Linked DNA regions of Homo sapiens. Changing the gene in region 1 together with any one later gene gives a genetic interaction. Each region holds a gene or a part of one and is shown in the gene's direction. Other genes may lie near its edges.

The links.
Region 2: changes in IGF1R (region 1) and CAND1 together harm fitness less than expected from each alone (positive genetic interaction), as found in Homo sapiens cells (one large-scale study listed by BioGRID).
Region 3: changes in IGF1R (region 1) and TRAPPC11 together harm fitness less than expected from each alone (positive genetic interaction), as found in Homo sapiens cells (one large-scale study listed by BioGRID).
Region 4: changes in IGF1R (region 1) and CHRAC1 together harm fitness less than expected from each alone (positive genetic interaction), as found in Homo sapiens cells (one large-scale study listed by BioGRID).
Region 5: changes in IGF1R (region 1) and DAZAP1 together harm fitness less than expected from each alone (positive genetic interaction), as found in Homo sapiens cells (one large-scale study listed by BioGRID).
Region 6: changes in IGF1R (region 1) and RABGEF1 together harm fitness more than expected from each alone (negative genetic interaction), as found in Homo sapiens cells (one large-scale study listed by BioGRID).
Region 7: changes in IGF1R (region 1) and ARF1 together harm fitness more than expected from each alone (negative genetic interaction), as found in Homo sapiens cells (one large-scale study listed by BioGRID).

Annotation. Positions count from the first base shown.
Region 1 is NC_000015.10:98,651,539-98,655,038, forward strand, and holds part of IGF1R (insulin-like growth factor 1 receptor isoform 1 precursor), read left to right. Parts: intron 1-3,500. UniProt on the Homo sapiens protein: Receptor tyrosine kinase which mediates actions of insulin-like growth factor 1 (IGF1). Binds IGF1 with high affinity and IGF2 and insulin (INS) with a lower affinity. The activated IGF1R is involved in cell growth and survival control.
Region 2 is NC_000012.12:67,307,358-67,310,857, forward strand, and holds part of CAND1 (cullin-associated NEDD8-dissociated protein 1), read left to right. Parts: intron 1-39; coding exon 40-135; intron 136-2,543; coding exon 2,544-2,713; intron 2,714-2,794; coding exon 2,795-2,959; intron 2,960-3,500. UniProt on the Homo sapiens protein: Key assembly factor of SCF (SKP1-CUL1-F-box protein) E3 ubiquitin ligase complexes that promotes the exchange of the substrate-recognition F-box subunit in SCF complexes, thereby playing a key role in the cellular repertoire of SCF complexes.
Region 3 is NC_000004.12:183,690,293-183,693,792, forward strand, and holds part of TRAPPC11 (trafficking protein particle complex subunit 11), read left to right. Parts: intron 1-1,023; coding exon 1,024-1,179; intron 1,180-2,667; coding exon 2,668-2,855; intron 2,856-3,296; coding exon 3,297-3,445; intron 3,446-3,500. UniProt on the Homo sapiens protein: Involved in endoplasmic reticulum to Golgi apparatus trafficking at a very early stage.
Region 4 is NC_000008.11:140,514,322-140,517,654, forward strand, and holds the end of CHRAC1 (chromatin accessibility complex protein 1), read left to right. Parts: intron 1-47; coding exon 48-174; intron 175-804; coding exon 805-926; 3' UTR 927-2,833; downstream 2,834-3,333. UniProt on the Homo sapiens protein: Forms a complex with DNA polymerase epsilon subunit POLE3 and binds naked DNA, which is then incorporated into chromatin, aided by the nucleosome remodeling activity of ISWI/SNF2H and ACF1.
Region 5 is NC_000019.10:1,421,086-1,424,585, forward strand, and holds part of DAZAP1 (DAZ-associated protein 1), read left to right. Parts: intron 1-62; coding exon 63-173; intron 174-1,262; coding exon 1,263-1,311; intron 1,312-2,334; coding exon of another isoform or gene 2,335-2,426; exon of another isoform or gene 2,427-2,625; intron 2,626-3,500. UniProt on the Homo sapiens protein: RNA-binding protein, which may be required during spermatogenesis.
Region 6 is NC_000007.14:66,747,233-66,750,732, forward strand, and holds part of RABGEF1 (rab5 GDP/GTP exchange factor), read left to right. Parts: intron 1-3,500. UniProt on the Homo sapiens protein: Rab effector protein acting as linker between gamma-adaptin, RAB4A or RAB5A. Involved in endocytic membrane fusion and membrane trafficking of recycling endosomes. Stimulates nucleotide exchange on RAB5A. Can act as a ubiquitin ligase.
Region 7 is NC_000001.11:228,092,708-228,096,207, forward strand, and holds part of ARF1 (ADP-ribosylation factor 1), read left to right. Parts: intron 1-3,500. UniProt on the Homo sapiens protein: Small GTPase involved in protein trafficking between different compartments. Modulates vesicle budding and uncoating within the Golgi complex. In its GTP-bound form, triggers the recruitment of coatomer proteins to the Golgi membrane.

The DNA of each region.
Region 1 (3,500 bases):
AGCTTCTCTAGTTTTGTGTTTTTAATGTTCTGAAATTCAAAACAGCAGGGATGGCCTTCGCCGACGCAGGAGTCGGGCATTTTAAAATAGGCTGTTTTTCTTTTGGAGCGTTCTTCTTGAAGGATATTCTTTGTGCAAGACGGCGATTTTTGAGAACACAGGCAGGAGGGAGGGGGTGTTTTAATGTATGTTTTTACTCCATGATACCAAAGCTTCCCCCCAGGATCCCTTTACAGTGGTTAGTTCCTGGAAACCTGATGGGTGGTCAGAAGGCACCCCAAATCTCGATTATGGTTTGCTGAAGTCTTGACTGACTCAGTACCTGCCCCTCCCTCCATCTCTGAAATGTGGAGAATTAAAAGCTATGCCTGTGAACGGGCGTTCAGTTTTTAGCCGGGAAGGTGCTAGACCACTTAACTCTGATAGAAATAAGCTGCTGAGCCCTATCAGGGAGGGCGTTCTTTCAGCTGTTGTCTGGTGGAGAAATAAAGACAGGGTGTTGGTTCAGTTGCAGGTATTTTGCTGGCGTATTGAGAGATTAGAGTTTCCTCTTTGAGTGTGATGGCAGTAGAAAGAGTGTTGTTTATCTTAGAAAACTTAGTTTCTGAAGCAGAGGCAGTCATATGGATGTGTTTGTTTTGTATCACCATAATGTGAACAGAGCATCTAAATGAAGGCGGTTCGGAGGTTCTGAGTGATAGCCAGATAATCTGAGGGCTATTTTGTTTTTAAAAAGTCAGCATGCACTTTAAATTTATTGTACCCATCTCCTTAAAAGGATTCAGTCATCTTTCTACCCCAGGCATCCTGTTGTCACAGAAATGTAGGTATGTGAAATGTTGGTGTTTAAAGAAGTTAGTGTTTTATTACCAGAAGGAGAACCCAGAAAAAGAACTTCTGAAAGAACCTAAACAGCAAATTATAGTTTAGATCCTCTGGAGAGACATAGCAAGCAAATGGTGTTTTGTGGAAGGGTGGGGTTTGTGTCAGGATTTGAAATGTAAAAGGTCATAATGTTTGATTTGTCGAAAAAGATTAGAAAAGTTCAACTCTAAGAAATATGCTAAGGTTGAATAGATGAAGCTTAAAAATATCACAAAAAGTGAAAGAAGTCAGTCACAAAAGACCACATATCGTATGATCCGGTTTATGTGAAATGTCTAGAATAAACAAATCCATAGAGGCAGAAGGTAGATGAGTGGTTGCCAGGGGCTGGGGGCGGATGGAATGGGGAGTGACTGCTGGTGGGCACAGGGTTTCTTTTTGGGGTGATGAAAATTGTTCTAAAATTAGTTTGTGGCGATGGCTGCATAGCTCTAAATATACTTAAAACCATTGGATTATGTACTTTAAATCGGGGACTTTAATGGTATGTGAATTATATCTCAATAAACCCTTTTTTTTTTTTTTAAAGAAATGTGATCAGGTTGAAAATAACTTGTTATGCTACCTTAAATTACGTTAAAATTATTACATACATTTGACAGGCTGATGTCTCTCTCTCTTTTCATTTATGAGTTTTTCAGATCCGTGAGTTGCAGCAATACAACAAACTGATAATTGAAGCTTAGCAACAGGGATTCAATCCCGCAGTAGAAATGGGCAAGCAGGAGAAAAAGAATCTTGGTTCTATGTAGCTTCAGTTAGGGATTGAGGAGCTGGATTTAAAAAACACAAATGCTGGTGGAGGGCAGATTTTTGACAATAGAAACCTCAGCTGAATCTGAAATGATGGTTTTTTTCAGGATAGAGTTTAGGAGCTGAGTCTGAAGGGCTGTTTGTATTTCCAGTTTTATTATGTTTTCCAACAAAGAAAGACATTGCTGTTTTAAGATGTTTTAAACACTCATTTTTTGATATGCCACATTGACCACAAGTGGTAGTAAGGACTGAGGATGAACAGAACAGTTCATTTTAATGCAGTATTGTTGTTTCTTTTCTTTGCAGTTTTATTTTATTTCTTACATAGTTCCAGGGTCTGAGCAGGAGAAAGAATCTTTAGGATGCAGTAGTTTTAGGATACACTGTTTCAAGTATACAGTGATTTTTATAAAATTAAAATTCCTTACAGAACGAAAGGTTTTAAAATGTGGCAAAGGCATTTTTGTTTTGAAACTGTGTGCATTTATCCAGATTTACCCTGGCCTTTCAATAGGAAAAGACCTAGAGAATAATTGTTGTTTACATTTGCTTTTGGTCTTTGTCTAAGGCTTAGTTTACTAATAAAAATGTTTCCTGCCCTTCCTATTGTTGCAAGATCAGGGCAGTAATGAAAATCAACTGTATCATTTTCACTTGTTGCCTTAGAGTTTTTGCCAAGAGGAACCCTCAAGGGACGGTGGTTTCCTTTTAAATCTGGTTTCATTTGTTTTGTAAGAATGTGCTGTAAGAAGCAACTGAATCCAGCCTGCACTTATTGTGCACCTACTGTATGAAAGCTGACCTTGTGCTACTCAGTGCATGAACCTGCAGAGTCTTGCATGAAACCACCTTTCTTGAAATTCAGATTTTTTTTCAGACTCAGTATAGGGTGCAGTTTTCAAGTAGACAGTAGTTAGCATTTTAAAGGTTCTTTTAAAAATATTTCTGTAGACTTAGGACTCTAGTGTTGTTCATCAGAAGCCTTTACCCTATACCTTTTTTGCCTCATTGGTGCTTTCCGTTATATTGGGATGTCACTGTAGACTGTGACATACAGGTGATGTTAACCCATCTTGACTGGCGGCACTGTCTTCTTTATAACATTGGATATGGCAATTGTGATTTACAAACTGCAGTGTTGTAGTTGCCTTTTTCCAAAAATTAGGAGTCACAGGTGTGTACATGAACGTTGCATAGCATGTTTTGAGTTGTAAGAAAGATGGAACTTATTTCAGAAGTTTTCTGGATTACATATTGCTTAGTTAGCTTTCTAGAAATCAGGAAGCATTCATAATTTCAGGGCATTTTATAATTTGTAAATAACTTGGTGTTTTTAAAAGCGTGAGGGAGTAAGAGTGAGGAGACAAATCCTGAAAGTTTTTGTTTTTTAATTGTAAAGCATACAAGATACATTTCTTTATAGGTTGTGATTTTCCCCAATTTGTTTTCAAAACTCATTTAAAAATCAGACCTAGTTCATGGAAGAGGTATTTGCGCCTGTGGGCGAACTTGATTTGAACTGCTTTTCTTAGCCAGCTTAGGACAGGTGCTGAGTCCAGGGGATGAGCTCTTCTCAATTGTACTAAATATATAATAGTTGCACACATGTTACGGATATAGTTTCTTGATTTCCAGTCTGAGATGTTCTGAAGGAAAATTCTGAACACTTTAGAGACAACAAAGTGCCTAATGAGTGATGCACTCTGATCCCTCCTGGAAAATGGTGTTTGGCATCAGCTTAGCAAGAGGAGGTTTTCCAGTTATTTGTAAAGATGTGATGTGGCTTTAAGTGGGGATGGGGGAGGGTAGCAGCCCCAGTGTTTGTGGACATTGAGACCTGTTGACATTTGGGAAGCATA
Region 2 (3,500 bases), on another chromosome or scaffold:
GACTACATACCAATAGACTTGCAATTTATTTTTAACTAGGCTCATCATATGCCCGAAGCTCAGTGGTTACGGCTGTGAAATTTACAATTTCTGACCATCCACAACCTATTGATCCACTGTTAAAGAACTGCATAGGTAAGTGGAAACAAAGATAAACATACTGATTTTTGGACTTTAGAATTCTCAAGAAACTCTTGAACTTAGTAACTAGAAATATCGAGGAATTAAAATGCTTATAAAATAATTGTTTAAAAGAAAATTGATATGATCTTACAACTTTTAACAAATTGCATTTGCCTGTATTGTTTGTAATTATTCCTAGATGATTTTGCACATAAATGAAGTTATAATATACCAGCATGTCTTTAGAGTCAACTACATATTTGATAGCCATATTTTTGGGGTGACCTAAGATAGCTTTAGTGGATAAAGCAAAAAGATACTAGATTTATATGGCCAGTCTGAAGTTTCTCCCTAGATTTAAATGAGTCTTGCTTGAGCTATTAAGGCCTCAAATTTCAATTATTACTTCTAACACCCAAGGAGATCTATGGAGATTTCCATATTTAAGGTCAAAATAACCTAAGAATAAAAAATAAAGGGGGGGAGAGCTAATTCCCAGAAGAACTAAGAGGAGATAACCCAAGAAAAACTAGGGCTTCTCTATTTCTGTGAAGACAAGAATTAGCTTTTGGGATTATTTCTGATTTTATAACCTCCTTGCATTTTGTTTTTATCATTGGTTTTCCTAGAGTTTGATAATAGCCAAAAACACCTCAGAATTTAGTTTGTTGCTTTCTTGAGGACAGGATAATGGAGATAACCATCAGGGAGGATTGAGGGATTTGGCAAAGAAGCTTTGTAGCTTTGTGCCATTCTTCAGTGTGCCAGAAAGAAAAAAAATACAATATAAAATTTGAACTGCATAGAAAGGGATTGCCAATTCAGAATAAGGAAAGCACAGGCACAAATGGGTTCTATTGCTAGGGCCTAGAAATTATTTAAAGTCTATATGAGAAACAACTTATTGGCATTTCCCCCACACATTTTCTGCTTTGATATGTTTATTGAGGACATTGGTATTATGCAAAATAGGACAGAGGAAGAGGCCCATGCCATATCTCTAGAAATATCTTTCCATGTTGACAGCAGTCAACCAGTATGCATTGTTGATACAGTTACTCAGCCAGGTAGTTAGCATTCTAATTGAATTATGATCTAGTTAAGTATTCATGACTATTTGAACATCAGAACCACCTGGGAAACTTTTTAAAAATTGAAATTGCTAGTTCATGACACCATTTTGTCCATAATAGCAATATTTTAGATGCTTTACTGAAAGCGGATATATACTCTATTGTAATTACTCTTCTAATCTACCAGTTTAGTATGCAAATAAAGGGGAGGGGAGATTAGTTTGGTACATTTATATTGTTTTTGAAACCACGCTGTTTCTCAGACTTTTTTTTTTAAATCAGTGCTGGAACTTTCTTGGATATCAACATTGGGTTTCCCAATCTACAGTATCTGAAGTCTCTCTTTCCTCCCATATTTTCAAATTGCAGGTTTTTCAAGTTGGCATTCAAGTCTTTTATCTCTCCTACATTTCCCTGTGTATTCTAAAAGATTGCTGATGATAGAGTTGAGATCATATAATGATGAATAATAGCTACATGTGAATACTTAGTGTGTACTAGACATTGTCTTCAACAATATATGCGCCGTTTATTCTGCTCAGTATAGCTCTAAAAGGTTTATAATCCTCATTTTATTGACTGAGAAACTGAGGTTCTTGCCTAAAGTAACTTGCACAAAATCATACATTTAACAAGTAAAATGATTTGAACCACCAACCATGTGACTCCAAAGATCTTTGCATTATACTTTCTTGCCCACATTTGCAAGAGTAAGCAGACTTTTAAAATACCTAGATGGCTTCTCTGGCTTTTGTCCTATGTTAGCTTTCAATTTTCTCCTTTTATATTATTTTCCTGTGAATTCGTGTATTTCTTACTGAAGACAGAAATAAAGTAGGGCTTTTGGAGGCACGTTTCTCTTTCATTTGATTAATTGTATATCTGCTAATAGTACTCCATCTTTATTAAGCAGTGGGTCTGTCTTCACTTCATTTTTTTATTCTTATTTTGAACTTAGTTTAAAAATATTTTTGTTGCTGCTTTTAGTGAACTACAAGGAGAATCAAGCATGTGATTAGTCTTTTTAGCTCTGTCTCTGTCATATCTTATATCTATAGAAGTGATATTGAGGAACTTTATGGACTCTTCTTCCATACCCTCTGCATTATAAGTGCTGAGAGTGGATTATCAATTGAAAATATATTCACCTTCAGAAATGATAGTTGCGTTGCTGCTGAAAGAAACGTTATGGTTCACTTAGTGTTTCATCAGGTTCTTCCCTGACCGTCACTGAAGAAATAACAATGACACCAGCAAAAATAAATTATATCAACTTAGAGAAAATATAATGTATATTGTATTTTAAGTTTATCATGTCTGTCTGTTGCTTTTCTTGTAATATTTCAGGTGATTTCCTAAAAACTTTGGAAGACCCAGATTTGAATGTGAGAAGAGTAGCCTTGGTCACATTTAATTCAGCAGCACATAACAAGCCATCATTAATAAGGGATCTATTGGATACTGTTCTTCCACATCTTTACAATGAAACAAAAGTTAGAAAGGAGCTTATAAGAGAGGTAAGTTAGATCACACTGTTTATTTGAGCTTGTCTTTGACTTAAGTATTGTATATCCACACGTTCTTTTTTGCTTTAACAGGTAGAAATGGGTCCATTTAAACATACGGTTGATGATGGTCTGGATATTAGAAAGGCAGCATTTGAGTGTATGTACACACTTCTAGACAGTTGTCTTGATAGACTTGATATCTTTGAATTTCTAAATCATGTTGAAGATGGTTTGAAGGACCATTATGATATTAAGGTAAGATGTTTGTGCCTATTTATACAATGTTTTAGAAGAAGACTTTGCTAGAGCAACTTTCACCCTTGTAATTTACTCATGTGTCTGAGAAAAATCAGGTTGTCTGTGAAGATTTTGATAAGCATATTGTAAACTATAAAGTGCAAAAGTAATAGGCAGTGTAACACCAGTTGACGTGTAAGAAAGATCCAGAGCCCTTTTTATTGGAGGAGGAAGTGGCAGTGGATGCAAAATGCTGTGTGCCCACTTGCTTAGTGAATAGTCCCTAGATCCTTTCCCTCAAAAAAGTCCCGACAGATTTTGCTGTTTAAAGTATAAATCTGTAACTTTTTGGCCTGTCTTAACATTGGACCATAGTTGCTACCCATGGAGGGTTTTCTTAGCATTGTCTTGATTAAGTCTCCTGAGCTACCTTTGGGGCTAGTCTGAATTGTAACTGTATCATTTACCTGAATGAGGAATTTTTGTTTTTCAATATAATATACTGTGTTTAATATCAAGAATTTTGTTATAGGACATGGAACTTTTCAGATATACAAAA
Region 3 (3,500 bases), on another chromosome or scaffold:
ACTTGAACTGTGTAAGAATTTCTATGAAGGTAATTTATATGCTGGAATAGAAGATGGCTCTTGGAAAGGTCTTGATATTTATTGAACAGATGAGAATAGTGATTCCATAGATAGAAACATGAAAGCTGTCTTCCTTTACTCATCTATGAGGATTGTTCTCTTCTGGGAAGGCAGATGCACATTCACTTTGGGACGTGCTGAGTTTCAGTGGTAGTGGACTTGTCCTCTAGACAGTTGTGGATATAAGCTTGTAATTAAGGAAATAAGACAGAATAGGACAACTGTATGTGAGAGATACTAGCAACAATGGTATGGTGAACGTGGAAACAAATACATTTCCAATGAAGTGAACAGAGAGAGAAATGAAGACCTGAAAGAAAGCAAAGGAATGGGGCTGGGCTTGGTGGCTCACACCTGTAATCCCAACACTTTTGAAGGCTGAGGCAGGAGGATCACTTGAGCCCAGGAAGTTTGAAACCAGCTTGGGCAACGTAGTGAGACCCCATCTCTACAAAAAATAGAAAAATTAGTCTAGTGTGATCGTACATGCCTATGGTCCCAGCTACTTTGGAGGCTGAGGTGGGACTATCCCTTGGGTCCAAAAGGTTGAGGCTACAGTGAGCCGAGATCATGCCACTGCACTCCAGGTAGGAAAAACAGGAAGTAACCAAGCAGGATGAGAAACAGGAAAGATTATAGCATCACAGAAGCCAAGTAAAAAAAGGCTCTTCAAGAAAAGGAGGTGATAAACAGTAGTGTCCAGTGCAACAAAGAACAAACTGTTTCTCTGGGAGAGGGATAGCTAAATATTTTCAGAAAACAGTTTATGTGTAGTGAACTGTTATATTATGGCAGCAGTAAGTGGATAAATGCCTCTATTTGGCATAAAAAATACTTCCTTTTATTAGTAACCCTTCATAATGCTTCAGTGTTTGTGGAGTTATACTAAATGAGCTCCAAAGCACTTGGCATTTAGGGTTAGCAGACATCTGACATTTGATGACCCCTGTTCACCTTTTTCAGGAATACAACCAGTTCTGTGTAATAGAAGAAGCATCCAAAGCAAATGAAGTTTTAGAAAATCTGACTCAAGGAAAGATGTGCCTAGTTCCTGGCAAAACAAGAAAACTGTTATTTAAGTTTGTTGCAAAAACTGAAGATGTGGGAAAGAAAATTGAGGTTAGTTATGAAATTTGTTTTAAAATATTTTTAATAATAAAAGTATGTTTATATCAATATTTTAAATAATACAAAAGTTGATTAAGTAAAAAATGAAAATCTGCTACTTGGACTTCCTAAAGGAAACCATTCATAATAGTTTGGGAAGTTTCCTTCAGACATTTTTCTGTGAACATACTTGTAGTTTAAAATTTTTTGCAATTAAAAAATTGAGAATATACTGTACATAATAAACTGTAGCTGGCTTTTGTCATTTAATAGTGTATATTAGATATTATTTCTTGTTAGTATATAAACCAATCTTGTTTTTTAATGACCACATAATCAGTTAAGGAGTTTTAAATAATGTATATTATGTAATATAGCAAATATATTTTTTATGTTATTCAGACTGAATATCTTTTGATGTTTAAGCATTACTGAGTACATATTTTTAAAGAAAAATGAACATATATATTTGTAAAGATTGATATAGTATAGATAATTGAAATGCCTTTTAGAAATATAGGATCTAAGTAATATCTTTATTGAGCATAAACTCTGGAGCCAAACTGTATGGGTTTAAATTACAGCTCTCTAGCTTATTAGCTTGTGGCCCTGGGCAGTTACTTAGCTTCTTTGTGTCTCAGTGTATTCATCTGTAAAATGGGGATCATAAGAGTACTAATCTCTTAGGATTTCATGAGGATTAAATCAGCTAGTTAATGTAACTTGCTTGGAATAGTGATTAGCACACAGTAAGCATTCATTAAGTGCTTGTTTTTCATGACTTGAATGGGAATGGTTAGCTCATCTAAACTTGGGACCATTGCTAAGATAAATGGCATATAAAGTTATACAACCAGTGTTCCCATAACAGTTTCTGTGAACATGTTGCTTTTATTATTTGCTTATTCATTAAAAAAAAAAAAACTTTCATGATTTTGACTAAATGCCCTAATTGCATATTTTATTTTTTCATGGTACCTAAGGGAACCTACCAGACATAAATAATAATTAGTAATTCTATTTTGAGTCCTTTTGTTAATGGTTTTAGTTGAATAGATCATGTATTCAATTAATAAAGCATTTTATTGCTAATACTGTAAATATTTTTGAGAAAAATATTTGTGGAGTCGGAAATGAGGTTATAATGTATCCATAGCCATCACAATACTTATTTCATTCAGCAACCACTAATTGAACCTTCATTACATCAGGGACTATGCCAGATGTTAAAATCATAACACTACTGTGCAATCAGCCTGTCAACAGAAAGTCAGGTTAGTGTCTCTGTTTTAAAGGTGAAGAAGTTGGAACCCAGAGCGCAGTTAGTCTCTGTCCCAGCCCGAGTAAGACCTCTAATAGCAGGTGTTCTCACTTCTGTCACACTGGGGGTCTCTAGATGAACTCCATGGTCTTAGCAGTCGACGATGTAATTTTGGTGAGAGGAGATGGTGACAAGCACATATGAGATGACATTTCCAACATCCTTTTTTTTCTTTTTAGATTACTTCAGTGGATCTTGCTCTGGGCAATGAGACGGGAAGATGTGTGGTTTTAAATTGGCAGGGAGGAGGAGGAGATGCTGCTTCCTCCCAAGAAGCCTTACAGGCAGCTCGGTCTTTCAAAAGGCGACCTAAGCTACCTGACAATGAAGTTCACTGGGACAGCATTATAATTCAGGCAAGCACAATGTAAGTCTGCTTTGCTAAGCTGATATTAAAGGTCATCCTCTTATTTCTTTTGCTATTTTTTTTGGAGACAGAGTCTCTCTCTTGTCCAGGCTGGAGTGCAGTGGTGTGATCACGACTCACTGTAGCCTTGACCACCTGAGCTCAAACCATCCTCCCACCTCAGGCGCTACCCTTGCCTTCCCCAGTAGTTGGGACTACAGCCAGGTGCCACCATGCCTGACTAATTTTTGTATTTTTTCTAGAGATGAGGGTCTTACTATGCTGCCCAGCCTTGTTTCAAACTCCTGGGCTCAAGCGATCCTCCTGCCTCAGTCTCCCAAAATGCTGGGATTACAGGCCTGAGCCTCTGCACCCAGCCTCTTATTTCTTTTAAATACTTTATTTGAATAATTTATTTGCTTTTTTTTTGATCAGTTACTTAGCTAAGGTTTCTTTTCAAAGGATCATATCCAGAGTCCCAAACATTTCTGTACATCTGCTACATGAACCCCCTGCACTGACTAATGAAATGTATTGTTTGGTTGTGACTGTTCAGTCCCATGAAAAGACCCAAATCAGAGATGTGAAGCTCACCGCTGGCTTAAAACCAGGTAAGCATTCCTTTTTGTAAGTTTGATCAGTATTAATCCAACATTAAATAAGCAT
Region 4 (3,333 bases), on another chromosome or scaffold:
ACATTTTCAAAGCACACCTTTCATTTGCATTTTTCATTTTGTTCTAGGAGCTCTTTGTTCAATGCCTAGCCACCTATTCCTACAGACACGGCAGTGGAAAGGAAAAGAAAGTACTGACTTACAGTGATTTAGCAAACACTGCACAGCAATCAGAAACTTTTCAGTTTCTTGCAGGTACTTAGTCTTTGAAACATTCTGGTTAAAAAATGATTAGTAATCAATAGCTCTTTCCCCACCCCTTGCCTCCCTTCTGCTCTCACGGAAAATTAGACTTTTTGCTACTTTTTCCAAGCCGCAAAGTACTATGAGTTGTCACAGGAAGATACTTTTAGTCTTCTCTGTTTGAATGTGTTTGTCATGTGGTCCACCTAGAACAATAGTGAAGCCAACAACATTCACAAGATGTTGGTTGGCCGCGTATGCTGGGCAGTCCTTTACTCTCTACAGGGACCCTGCCTGCCACTGAAGGGAAAACTCAGGGTGGGTCTACATGGCCGTAGTTAGAGCTTAAGTCTACCCTGGGGCTAGCCTAGGCTATCTCAGGTAGTCGGGCAGGGTTGCTCATAAAAGCAGCTCATAGAGACACCATGGTTTGTACTCATTGGACTGGAAAGAGGCCTATAGCGTTCGTTAGGAGACAATGCTAGTTTCTTTGATATTTTACCCAGAAATGCAGCCTGAATTTCATCTTGTTTTGGAACCTCTTATAGAGGTCAAAGCAGGAACTAGTACATTTTGAAATGTGCATTGCTGTGTTCATAGTCTACCATAACCAATTGCTGATGTACGCTTTATGTTTTTAAGATATATTACCAAAGAAGATTTTAGCTAGTAAATACCTGAAAATGCTTAAAGAGGAAAAGAGGGAAGAAGATGAGGAGAATGACAATGATAATGAAAGTGACCATGATGAAGCTGACTCCTAAACCAAAAGTGCTTTAAAAACCAGCCTGGCGAGGACAGCCCTGGACCCACTCCACTGTCTCTAAGTAAACACAGCACTGCCCGCTTTTAGCGTCTTCACTTCTTCACAGAGTTCCAGTGTGTGGTATTCTTTCGAGGTATTCTTTCCAGGCCGAGATTGAGCACCTCATGTACCTACGCCACAGACAGCCAGAGGGAAAGCGACCCAGACAGCAGCCCCTCCTCGACAGGCCCACCCTGCAGCTCAGGCACCAAGAAAACAGCCGATACTGGCAGCCATTGCAGCTCCAAACTGCAGAGGCAAGGCCAATTTTAACTTTTCAATTTACAGTCGATTTTGAAGAGCTTCTACATATCGGTTATGTAAATTCATATATGTATATTTTGGAATCAGTTCTTATAAACAGCTCGATTCAGTTTTAGCTAAATTTATAGTTTAGGTAGTATGTTACATTTGAATTTTTGTCTTAAGAAAAGTTGACTGTTCAGATATTTTTCTACTGTAAAGAAATATACTTTTCTATTAAAGATCTGTACATATTTTTACAGTAAAATGCTTTATGGAACTAGTTTTAGAGCCCTCTATGGCTTTAAGGCCTTGCTTACTGCCTGCAAATTTTGAGAAATTTAAAAATAAGCATTCTAACACTTTTATTCCCACAGAAAAATTCCAAGTCAAATTATCAAATCAAATACAAAAATAAGTCTTACCTCTTGTATAAGCATGTTGTACTAAAAAAAAATTTTGAAACATTTTGTATATTGGAGATCTCTCTCATCTTACTGTTCTTTGCTTTAAATTCCTGGCACTTCTTTTTACTGTCTATAAGAGAAAACCTATCATAAGCCCAATTTTTTTTTTCCACTTAGGGTAAATGTTTGGCTCCTCTCATTTCATTATCTTTTTTTTTTTTTTTTTAAAGACAGATTCTCACTCAGTTGCCCAGGCTGGATTGCGGTGGCGCTGTCTCAGCTCACTGCAACCTCCGCCTCCCAGGTTCAAGTGATTCTCCTGCCTCATCCTCCTGAGTAGCTGGGATTACAGGCGTGTGCCACCATGCCCAACCTATTTTTGTATTTTTTAGTAGAGACGGGGTTCACCATGTTGGCCAGGCTTGTCTCAAACTCCTAACCTCAACTGATCCACCTGCCTCAGCCTCCCAAAGTGCCGCCGGGATTACAGGCGTGAGCCACCATGCCTGGCCTTCATTATCTCTTTTTTAAAAATGAAAAAGTTTATAATTTACATTCAGTAAAATCACCCTTTTTAGTGTCTAGTCTGTGAATTTTGACAAATGCATGGTTTTGTAACCAATCGATAGGACAGTTCTGCCACCCAGGACATTCCCCTCTGTTCCTCTGTTCCTCTCTTCTCCTGCCCCCTAGCAACCACTGGTGTTTTCTGTCCCTCTTGTTCATTGACATTTATTTTAAAATAAAATATTTTAAAATCTACTTTTTGGTGTACAGTTCTGAGTTTTGGCAAATGCAGTCAAGTCACTACCACCACCACAATTAACAGCTATATCACCCTCCAGTAAATTCCCTGTGGTCAGCTCCTTCCCCACCTTTTACCGTGGCAACCGTCAAGCTATTCTCTGTCCCTATACCAGGTGTCATCAAATTTTTTTCTGGAAAGGGCCATGCAGTAAATAGTTCAAGCTTTGTGGGCTTTTATAGTCTCTGTTGCTGCTGCTGAACTCAGCTGTTGTAGCACGAAAGCAGCCAGGTAATTACTAGATGAAGGAATGCAGGTGGCTGTGTTTCAATAGAGCTTTATTTCTGCAAACTGAAACTTGAGTTTTGTGTAATTTTCATGTGTCATGAAATACTGTTTTCTCCAACCATTTAATAATGTAAATACTTGCTAGCTTATGTGCCATTAAAAAATGACTTGATTTGGCTTACAGACCAGTTTGGTGGCCTGTCTTTTCCAGAATGTCATATAAATGGAATCATTCAGTATGTAGCATTTGAGTCTGCAGTTGTTCTGTTTAGCAGAATGCATTTGAGATTCATCCGTGTTGTCACAGGTATCAGCAGTCCATTCCTTTATATTGCTGAGTAGGATTCCATTGTATGGATGTATCTGTTTATCCATTTTCCAGGTATATGGATAATTACCCATTTAGATTGTTTCTAGTTTTGATGATTGTAATTTTTTTTTTTTTTTTTTTTGACAGGGTCTCACTCTGTCACCCAGGCTGGAGTGCAGTGGCATGATCATGGCTTACTGCAACTTCCGCCTCCTGGGTTCAAGCGATTCTTGGGTCTCAGCCTCCTGAGTAGCTGGGATTACGGGCACGGCGTCACCACACTTGGCTCATTTTTTTGTACTTTTAGTAGAGATGGGGTTTCACCATGTTGGCCAGGCTGGTCTCGAACTCCCGACATCAAATGATCCGCCCA
Region 5 (3,500 bases), on another chromosome or scaffold:
CAGCTCGCGGGAGGGTTTGGAGGGTTCCCGTGTGAACTAACTATCCTTCCCTTCTTCAACAGCAGAAAGGACCCAGGAGCGATAACAGTAAATCAAATAAGATATTTGTCGGTGGAATTCCTCACAATTGTGGTGAGACAGAGCTCAGGGAATACTTCAAGAAGTTCGGAGTGGTGAGTTTCTCCCCACCCCGGCAGCACTGTGGGGACAGAGCCGCTTCTGCTCAGGCCTGGGCCTTCTTGGGGCTGGAGTGGCCGAGCCACAGGTGCACGGGCCTTTCAGGCTGGGAGCTCGCTGTCTCGTATTTCCCCAACGCCTGCGCCCTCCGGAAAGGTGGAAAGCCCGGCCTTTGCCTTCATGGCCATTTCGTGTCCCAGTAGGGTGGTTGGGCGGTGAACCAGCCTGACAGCCTTCAGGGCGGCCGCCCGATTCCATTGTGAACACCGTGGGGTCCAGTGTCAGAGAAGGGCAGTTACACAGAAACGGGGTTCAGTGTGGCCTGGGCGAGCCAGCCCCACAGAGCTGACTTTCCACTGGGCAGGTGGGAGAATGCCCGAGCTCCGTTGAGCCCAGTGCCAGAGGGAGCTGGGACAGCCGGAGGGGGCCGGCGGGGAGCCCTCCTAGTCACCCAAGGCAGGGGCGTGTGGTCACCCCAAGGTCCTGCTGGGACTCCTGCCGTGCCCCGCAGGTCACACTCCGAGCCCCGCCAGCAGGACAGCCCTGCGTGCCTGAGTACTGCGCACGTTCATCAGGTGGTACCTGAGGGTGCCACGGGCCTGGGCCAGGAATGAGAGGCCTGAGCGGGGCCTGGAAGAGCAGGGTCTGCAGAGGAGCTGTGTGTGGCTGCCCCGCCACTTCGAGTGAGGGCCGAGCGTGCCCTTTGCTTCCCGCGTTTGGGTGGGAAGGGCTTCTGTGGGGTCTCCTGGCTCCCACGTCCCCTGCTAGGATGCGTGGTCGGCGTTGTTGGCCCTTCATGTCCGTCAGCACACACGTGAGCGGGGCCACGGGCAGCCCGGAGGCGGGTATCCAGACGCCTGCCCTGGAGCTGCTTCTCCCTGCCTGCGTCTGGCCCTGGGAGTGTTGGGGCTCCAGCCTTTCTCAGACAGCAGCCCCACGGAGCAGCTGTTGCCCGTGCACCTCCCCCGCTCAGGGAGGGCGCACCCTGTGCGAGAGTTTGGGTTCGTGGGAACAGGCTGTGCCCTCGGAAGACCACCTGTGGTGCTGGCCCTGGTGTCCGTGCTGACGCCACCCTCTCCTTCCAGGTCACGGAGGTAGTCATGATCTATGACGCCGAGAAGCAGAGGCCCCGAGGTAAGGGCAGATCTAGTTTGACCTCGGCCTTCTCCCTGCTCCTCCCTCAGATGGCAAACTATCTCACCCGCCAGGCACACACAGGTGGCGGCTGTAGCAAACAGCCTCAGGAAGGGACGATTTGGAGACAAATGACTAAAACGTGGGCTCCTCATGTGCACCCCATTCAGCCTGTCTGTGCTTCCCGAGGTCAGACGTCACACATTGTTTTTTGGCTTGTTCTTTTGAAGTTTTTACGACTTGTCATGAGTCTCGGCCTGGCTTCTGTTTTTCACTGTCCGGAAGAGTGTGGTCCTTCTGCATTTGACCTTCCTTCACCCTCATCCAGTCCTCCCAGTGTGGCCGGTCTCATTTCGTGTCGTCAGCTGGGTCAGCTGGCTCGGTGTGGAGTTTGGATTTTCCGTGATCCATCCCATGCTTTTTTTTTCTTTCTTTCTTTTTTCCTTTTCTTTTCTTTTTCTTTTTTTTCAGTTTTCTCCCCTCTCTGAAGTCAGCAGGGCAGGTGGGAGGAGGGGTGAGGAGTCACCTCAGGGCCTCCCCTCATTTTCCCTCAGCTTCTTGCACACCCATCCATGCTGGTTTGTGGAGCTGGGACGATGGGCGCCCAGTTTCTGTGCCCCTTTTCCGTGGCTGCTGCTGTCTGTCCCGCCCGCCCGCATGGTTTTGGTTCATCAGCTGCTTTTGGCCGGCCACGTGAGCAGACCTGCAGCCTGGGTCTGCCCGCCACGTCCGTGCCGCCCCCGCACCACCGGCCCAGGTCAGTCGGGGCAGCCCCGAGCGCCAGGTGGCGCCGCAGCATGCCCACCATGCTGGAGCATAGTTTGCCATTTGAACCTCCCTCCCCACGGTTAGGAGTGCTCCTCCTCCATGTCGGTTACGCTGTTAAGTCTTAGTCGTAACTTAATTTAGACATACATGCTTAGTGACGTACTTAAGTGTTTCATAGTAAAGTACAGTGATGTTAAGTAAGCTGTTTTTCCTTTTCTCTCTGTGAATTGTGTGTGATTAACGATATCTCTTTAGATTTCTCTTCTCCAGGTGCTAAATTATATCACACAGGTACAGGCCAGTCCCGCAGTCAGAGGAGGGAGCGGCTTTGCTCCAGTGGGGTGTAAACGAAGTTTCAGGTGTTTCTGTCCCGCTTCCTCAGTGGTGATGTCGCCTCTTGACAGCCGCATTCCTAGACAGCGCTCAGGGCGCCTCCCCCAGGACCCAGCGCCTCTTGCACTGTGCCCGGACCAGGCGAGCCCTGTGGTTTCAGACACTCCTGCAGTTTGCGAAAATGTCTACTTCTAAATACGTTGTTTCATCACCGATGCTGTGTTCCAATACTGCCTCTGATCTTGGGAAACTTGAGCGCGCGGGAATCTGAGGGTTGCTTCTAGATCCTCCCGGTCCCCCTCCGGCTGCCCAGAGCTGGCGCCCCTTCTCCTCGCGTCCTGTCCTGTCCCGTGTGGACGGGACGTGGCGAGTGTCGCTGAGTCCACACTGGTGTACAGAGCACTTCGGGGCCAGCACGTGGCCACATGTCCTTAGCTGTTGGGCTTTGAAAGTGTCCCTTGGGTGTCAGGCGAGTGGAGGGCCGGAGAGACGCTGCGGCGCTGCTTAGCGGGTCCTCCCAGAGAGTGTGTCCCCTTCCCTTGGCCTTTCTGCATCTTCTGAGACGGGTCTGTGTCCCCCTCCCCGCCACCTCCTCCCTCTTCCTCTCCACTGACTGAAGGTCATGGCCATGTCCCTGTCAGGGACCCCGCCTGTGTCTCGGGCACACAGTGTCTGTGCGGGTCCCTGCTTGGCCCTCCCACGTCTACCCTCGGCCCGCCCGCTCCAGCCGCTGCCTCGTTCGCCTCTCAGTCCCCTCAGGTCTTCTCCATCCTGCGCTCCTCTCGCTGTGTGCCTTGCCTTCCTGGTCCCTCCTCCTCTTCCTCCTCCTCTTCCCCCTCCCCCTCCTCCTCCCCCTCCCCCTCCCCCCTCCCCCTCCGTCTGGTTGCAGACACTGCGTGCACAGTCACGCTCAGGTGCACACGTGTGCTCAGGACGGTGGGAGGCTCCTGAACCACAGTGACCTTTGTCCCCTCACAGTCTGAGCTGCCCTTTCTGCCCCGTTTCCATCTTTCCCCGCCCCCAGTTTTGCTTGTCCTGTTTCTGCCTGGTCCCAGCTACAGCAGCCCTGGCCCCTGTCTCTTCAGCTT
Region 6 (3,500 bases), on another chromosome or scaffold:
GCGTAAAATATTACACACTGAGAGAGTATTAAGCTTTTTAATTTTCCCCCAGTAACAGTGAGCAGATTGCTGAAATCTCTGAAGCAGGAATGTAACAAGAGTTTTGAGGGCTCTAAATTCTCTGCTGTTTCACCCTAAGGAATGGTTTGGCAGCATCCTCTATGCTAGGCACAGAACAACTCAGGAGGAATTGTACAAAGACCTTATGAACCACATTTGAAGCTAGTCTGTTCAGTTCCCATTCAAAATAAATACACAACTGTAATTGAATTTATGGTGATTTGGTCTGTATGCTAAAATTAAAAATCGCTTTTGGGGGATTTTCACATAGGGGTATATTTATAATTTTCTGTGTGCTTTGCAGTTAAAAATACATAGTGAAAGTTTTATTTTTGTAGTTCCTCTGTTGTACAGAGGAAATTTAAATTCTTAAAATTAGAATTTTCTAATTTTAAGCACTTTCATTTTTCCTTTAGAAGGTACTTTGGAGCACATAAAAGAAAATGCCATTAGAAATTGAACATAGAAAATGTTTATTAATCGAAGAAAATGTTTTCTTATTGTGCTATAATTTTTTTCAGTGGAACATATCATTTACTTATTCCATTATTCCACATCTTGTTCCAGAAAGGGTTTGTAATGACTTACAAAGATACGTGCGACATACTGTTGGTAACATAACAGATAAGTGGGTGAGGAATGCAGGACTGAGGGAAAATTAAGATGGAAACAGGAATGAGCTGTGTACACAGAGCACTTGGACTGAAGTCTTAAGTGCAGAGGGCCACAAATTTGGCTTTGCTTTTGAGTAGCCAATTAAGAGAGAAATATAATCAGTTACATGGGTCAGTGACCATACGACAAAAGAGATCATTTCTGCTTTGGATTCCCAAAGACTTTCCAGCATGCGTTTCAAAGGGCTGGGTGTCGAGTTTTACTTTGTGTGTTAGTAAAACTCCTTATTGGCTTTTTGTGTAAGACGGTGACATAACATCAAAACATTCCGTAAAAGCATTTCTCTTGCCTGCAAAATAATGTGATCCGAGTACTTAGATCTCTAGGCTGATTTAAGGATCTGTTTTAGATTATCTAGATGAGTAGGTGGATTGCACATTCTTCACCTACCTTCCATACTTTCTCAGTGGATCTTTTGTAATGAATTTATCAGCAGTGGGGTTTGAGTTTGTGCTTCCTCACAAGTTCCTTGAATGCATCTGTTTTCTGTTGTTGGTGAATCACGGAACCATATGTTTTAACAGGCATGGTTTATCGTGGGGGTATCACGATGGAACAGTCTGACAAGGGCACATATTTGTTTGTTTGTTTTTTGAGGAAAATCACTTTATTCTAATTAACTCAACAAAGAATAAAATCATAACGGCTAGTTCAAGGGTGCCACACAAACATCTACCCAGCCATCTTAATGAAATTCTACACAGTAAGAATTTCCTTTTCCATTGCAGTCCTGAAGCAGGGACGCTATGAGAGAGGAGAGGTTTACCTGATGATTACACTTTATACCTTCACTATCAATTGTATTTTTGTGCTAAATCACTTGGTTATGAGAGCTGATTTTCCATTTCTCCAATTCGAACTTTCTGATTAGACCAATCTGTTTGCAAGTCTGCACTGTTTCAGCACCTTATTGAAACCCTCACAGAGTTTTCTGTCACCCTGGTTCTGGGCACTCTCCAAAAACTGTTTTATGTCATAAGAGCAAGGCCGCTGCTGCTTTGCTGGCTGGGTTCCCTGAGGCTCTTGGTAGGTGATATCAGGCCTTCAGGCTCACCGTGACTTCCTCCACTGAAGCCCTGGTGGTGGCATGACCCAGTGTATGTCTGACAGGGGCACATATTTGAATGAAAGCCACCTCACCTCCATACAGAGATGGGCTGAGGGAATACCAAATATGAAGATGGGAGCAGATCCAGATCTACTCGTCTCAGATGAAATGTCCAGTAAGTTGTATTGCCTGTATTTTGCTCCAGCTGAACAGTTGCACTTTCAAGTAATAATAGTTCAAATTTATCAAATGCTAGCAGGAGCCATGCATTGTGTTAATGGAGAGAGACCATCCTTATTCACTCTTACTCAGTAAACAGTGGGTGAAACTGCCCTTGCCTAAATATAGTTATGTAATGCTGTGTTTCCTTAATTGTATATCCATAAAGCTTTTGACATTGTTTTCTAAATGTGTTCCTCAAAAAGGAGTTGGGCTAGTGACCAAAGTTTTGAATAGAATATTGTAAGAAAGCAAATACAAAGTGTAAAAACAAAAAACAGAACTTTGCGAGGTGTTGTTCACCTGTAGTCCCAACTACTTGGGAGGCTGAGGCAGGAGGATTGCCGGAGGTCAGGTATTAGAGGCTGCAGTGCACTATGATTGTGTCTGTAAATAGCCACTACACTCTAGCCTGGGCAACAAAGCAAGACTCCATCTCTAAAAACAAACAAACAGGCCAGGCACGGTGGCTCACACCTGTAATCTCAGCACTTTGGGAGGCCAAGGCGGGCGGATCACGAGGTCAGGAGATAGAGACCATCCTGGCTAACACAGTTAAACCCCGTCTCTACTAAAAATATTTTAAAAAATTAGCTGGGTGTGATGGTGGGCGCCTGTAGTCCCAGCTACTCGGGAGGCTGAAGCAGGAGAATCGCTGGAACCTGGGAGGCGGAGCTTGCAGTGAGCCGAGATCGCACCACTGCACTCCAGCGTGGGCGACAGAGCGAGACTCCATCTCAAAAACAAACAAACAAAACTACAGAATAATGAAATAGAATGTCCAAAATTTATCATAACTGGTGTCTCACGAGATAATACGTTTGGGTCCTGTTTAGCAAGTTGGATTATATTTTTATTTGTGTAAATTTATTGGCCGTTGCAGTTGGGGTTGTATTGAGAATGTAGATTTTGTCTGATGAGAGTGTAGATTTTATTTGTAGTGAGTGCATGTGGATTTTTATTTGTCTAGGGTTTTAAAAGTTGTATAGTCATGAATGGACACTTTTTAATACCATCTATGAGAAATTCAATGGCAAAGTGTTTTCATACCCATATGCTAACTGCTGATGCTTTTTATAAAACATTGTTAAGGTGTTACTTGCCCCAGGAAATACAATGTTTTATGACAGAGACAGTACTGAAATTCAGTATTTAAGTTCTTTAAATACCAGCTATGTTGAGTAGATATTACTTTCTCCCAAGAGCCTATTTTTGGTTTATGACATATTAGGGAACAAATTGCAGACACAGTTTTTTCATTACCTGTAAGAGCACTTATAGGATGTAAGCTATTTCCTTAAAGAGGAATTTTTGCCTTTTTAATACTTCTGTCTAGTAACTCAATGCATTAAAAGATACATATTTTTCTAGTGCTATAAATATATTGGTACATTTAAATATAATATACACACATATAATGGTGCTTGAGAAATAAGTTGAGATTATTTTAAGGTTAAGGTTCTTAGATTCTGACAGAAAAACTGATCAGCCAGTTGGA
Region 7 (3,500 bases), on another chromosome or scaffold:
GCCAAAGTATCCCTGAGATCTGCAAGGGACCGAGGACAGTACTGGCTGGTGGTCTGGGTACAGGCCACAGAGGCATCTGGACCCCATGTGCATCTGGACCAGTTTGGTTGGATCCATTCATGGACACAAAACGGATGTGAACTCACAGAGCTACATTTTCTCCCTGCCCCTGTTCAGGCACAGTGAGGTGTCGGGGAATGTAGCTGCCAGAGTTGACTGTCCCGTTCTTTGGTGTAATGCCTGAAGGCCACCTTTACCATTGGTCTGTGGTCCTCACTGAAGAAAGAAACATTCTTCCTAAAAGACTTTTTTTCCTCAGAGTTGGAGCCCACAGCGTGGTCAGGAAAGAGAAGTAGCCACTGGTGGCTCCTGGCATCCTCCTGCTGGGCAGCCCCTTCTCAAAGTGTGAGGGGTCCCCTTGTGTACAAGCAGGAAGGCTCTGAGAAAGTCAGGTTTGCTCCTACCACAGGATAATTCCGATGAACCTGAAAAGCGGGTTTTGGCTTGTGTGCAGGGACTCTGGTGGAAGAAAGGGTGACAGCACCTGGCCTGGGCATGACACAAGTTAGGACCCGTACCAAGAGGCCCTGGAATTGAGGGTGGGGGTTGCTGTGGACTCTTTCTCCCTCTTAGGAAACTCTATTGGGTCTCCATCTGTCACAGAAGCAGTAAATGATGTAGGGGCTGCCAGGTATAGGGTCCTGTGGGGATGCTGGAACATGCCGAGGCAGGACGTGCCAGCCACCCTCTGCCCATATGTGCAGCAGGGCCACAGATGTGCTTGTCGGTAGGAGAGACCAAGCTGTCTGTGTGCCGATGTCTTGACACCTGAGACTTCAGGTTCACCCATCCTGGTTCTGCCATTCCATTGCAGGGTGGCTTCCCTCCTTTGGGGACTCTTAACGCTTTGGTCTGTTAAAAAAAAAAAAAAAAATCCGGGCGTGGTGGCTCACTCCTGTAATCCCAGCACTTTGGGAGGCCGAGGTGGGCTGATCATCTGAGGTCAGGGGTTCGAGGCCAGCCCTGACCAACATGGTGAAACCCCGTCTCTACTAAAAATAAAAATAAAAATTAGCTCAGCGTGGTGGCACGCGCCTGTAGTCCCAGCTACTCGGGAAGCTGAGGCAAGAGAATCTCGAACCTGGGAGGCAGAGGTTGCAGTGAGCCGAGATCGCACCTGAGAGGTTGCAGTGAGCTGAGATCAAGCCACTGCACTCCAGCCTGGATGACAGAGTGAGACTCTGTCTCAAAAAAAAAAAAAAAAAAAAAAGCCACCAATGGGGAGGGCCTGGGATTACTGGCATCACAAACCCCACTGCCTGCAGGCTGCATGATCTCCTGGGCATGGTTGGCGGCACTGCCCCGGGCATGAGGAGGCAGCAGGCATGTGTGGATCACGGACAGTGCTGGGGTCGAGGGGGTTGGTGACGGTGTGACACCCCTTCCCCTGAGTGGCTGGGTGTTACTGTCAATTCTCCCAAGTGCTGTGCTTCAGTGGTCGTGGCAGTCTGGTGCTGCCTCTGCCCAACTGGCAGGCGACCCTTATTCCTGAGTCCCTGCTGACTTGGTGTCCTAGGTTTATTCCTCCTAGACTTGTTAACTTGTACAGTTAACAAGCCTTTGACACCACACACCCTCGCCTCAGCTTTCCAACCCCCTAGTAATAACAACATCAGGACTCCCTGAGTATCCTCCACCATATGTTTTCCTGGAGTAACTCATAAAAGGCCCTCTTTTCGTTCCATTTCATGCTTGGGTTTTTCATGCGAACCTGTCATTATTAGTTTTTCCGCATTGCCTAGAGTTGCCCAACCCCATAATAAGAATACGTAGGTGGCGTGCCCCATTCTTGCAGGTGTCCACTTCCTGCTCCAGTCTGAGGGGGTTGGCTAGGCTGCTGCTCTCTCTCCATGTGGGGTTGGCTAGGCTGCTGCTCTCTCTCCACGTTGCTGTGGGCTCGCATCCTCTCCCTGGTTCCCTGGGGGAGCTTCTTAGGGAGGGAGCATGTGAGAGATCTGAGGCCCTGCAGTTTGGGAGTTATTTTCATTCTCCCCTAACACTTGTTGGATACTTTGGCTGGGTATAGAATTAAAGGGTTTCGAAAGCAGTGTTTCAGAGTCTTCCATTCTCTGGGGCATCAGAGGTGTCATTTGCCCCTGTGCATTCTGGAGTCCACCTTGCACCTTTATTGGGTCTCATCTAGGTCCTTGGCTTTGCGCTTCAGCCCTTTGAGGCCGAAGCCCAGATTCCTGGGTCCCCACTCTGGAACAGGGAAAAATTTCACCCCGTAATTTCGTACGTTCTTTCTTTTTAGGGTTTCTGTTGGTTGATATCTTAAGTTACTCCTCATCTTCCTTTTTCATTCTGTTTGTTTTTGTTCTGCCTTCTGAGCACCTTCATTTTGAATTTTCCTTTTCAGCTATTTGTGTATCTATCAGGTTTCTCTCCTTGTCCTTTGTTAAAATAGTATTCTGTCTTCAGTCTCCTGTCTTGGTTGCCTCCTTGCAGATTCCTTTTATATTTGGGTCTCTTATGTTGGTGGCCTTTCAAAGGCAGACAGGCCTGTCTCTTGGTGGGGGGTGGGGGTGGGCGGAGCTCCAGTTGCTTGTGTGTGGATCTGCTGGGGCATATAGAACTCTCAGGAATTATTCTGGAATTTCATGGCTCAAGTGTGTTGTCATGGCTCAGCGCAGGCCTAAGCCCTGCTGCAGCTGCTCCCCTAGACCAAGCTTGTCCAACCCTTAGGCCGCATGTGGCCCAGGATGGCTTTGAACCCGACCCAACACAAATTTCTAATAAAACATTGAGATTTTGGGGGTTTTTGTTTTGGTTTGGTTCACCAGCTGTTGTGTTAGTATATTTTGTGTGTGGTCCAAGACAATTCTTCTTCCATTGTGGCCCAGGGTAGCCAAGATTGGACATTGCTGCCCTAGGCAGTCCCAGCTTCATCCCTTGGGTCCCAGGCGGTCCAGTTTTCTCTGCCTGGTCAATCATCACATCCAAGGTCTTCCTCCCTTTTCTCTCTGCCCTTCAAGGCGTGTGTGTCATTTTGGTGTCTTCATTGGTAGTGGTTGCAGGAGTGGACTGAGAGGGCAGGTATTCAGTCTCTTCTGTGCTCCATGGGTGGTGGTCTTCCTCTGGGCTTAGAAAACCTGGCCGTCCCCAAAAAGGGAACACTACAGTGAAGGTCCTTATAAATTTCAGAACTCATTTAAATTTCAGAATAGGTGACATGTTCAAAACCAAGAGCAAAGTGTCCAAAGGACACTGATCCAGCTTGAAGGGGTTCTGTGGCTCATCTGGGATGATGGCAGTGTTAAATCAGACACGGGCGGCCAGTTCACACCCACTGAAACACACAGGCATGTGTGGGCTCTTGCTGATGTTGAGAAATGGAGAAGAGGCATTTCCTTGCCGTAGCGTGCTGGGGTGACTGGATGAGAGAGTCACCAGCGGACAGTCATGGCTGTGATTCAGCCAAAAGCCACCTGTGTGTGGAA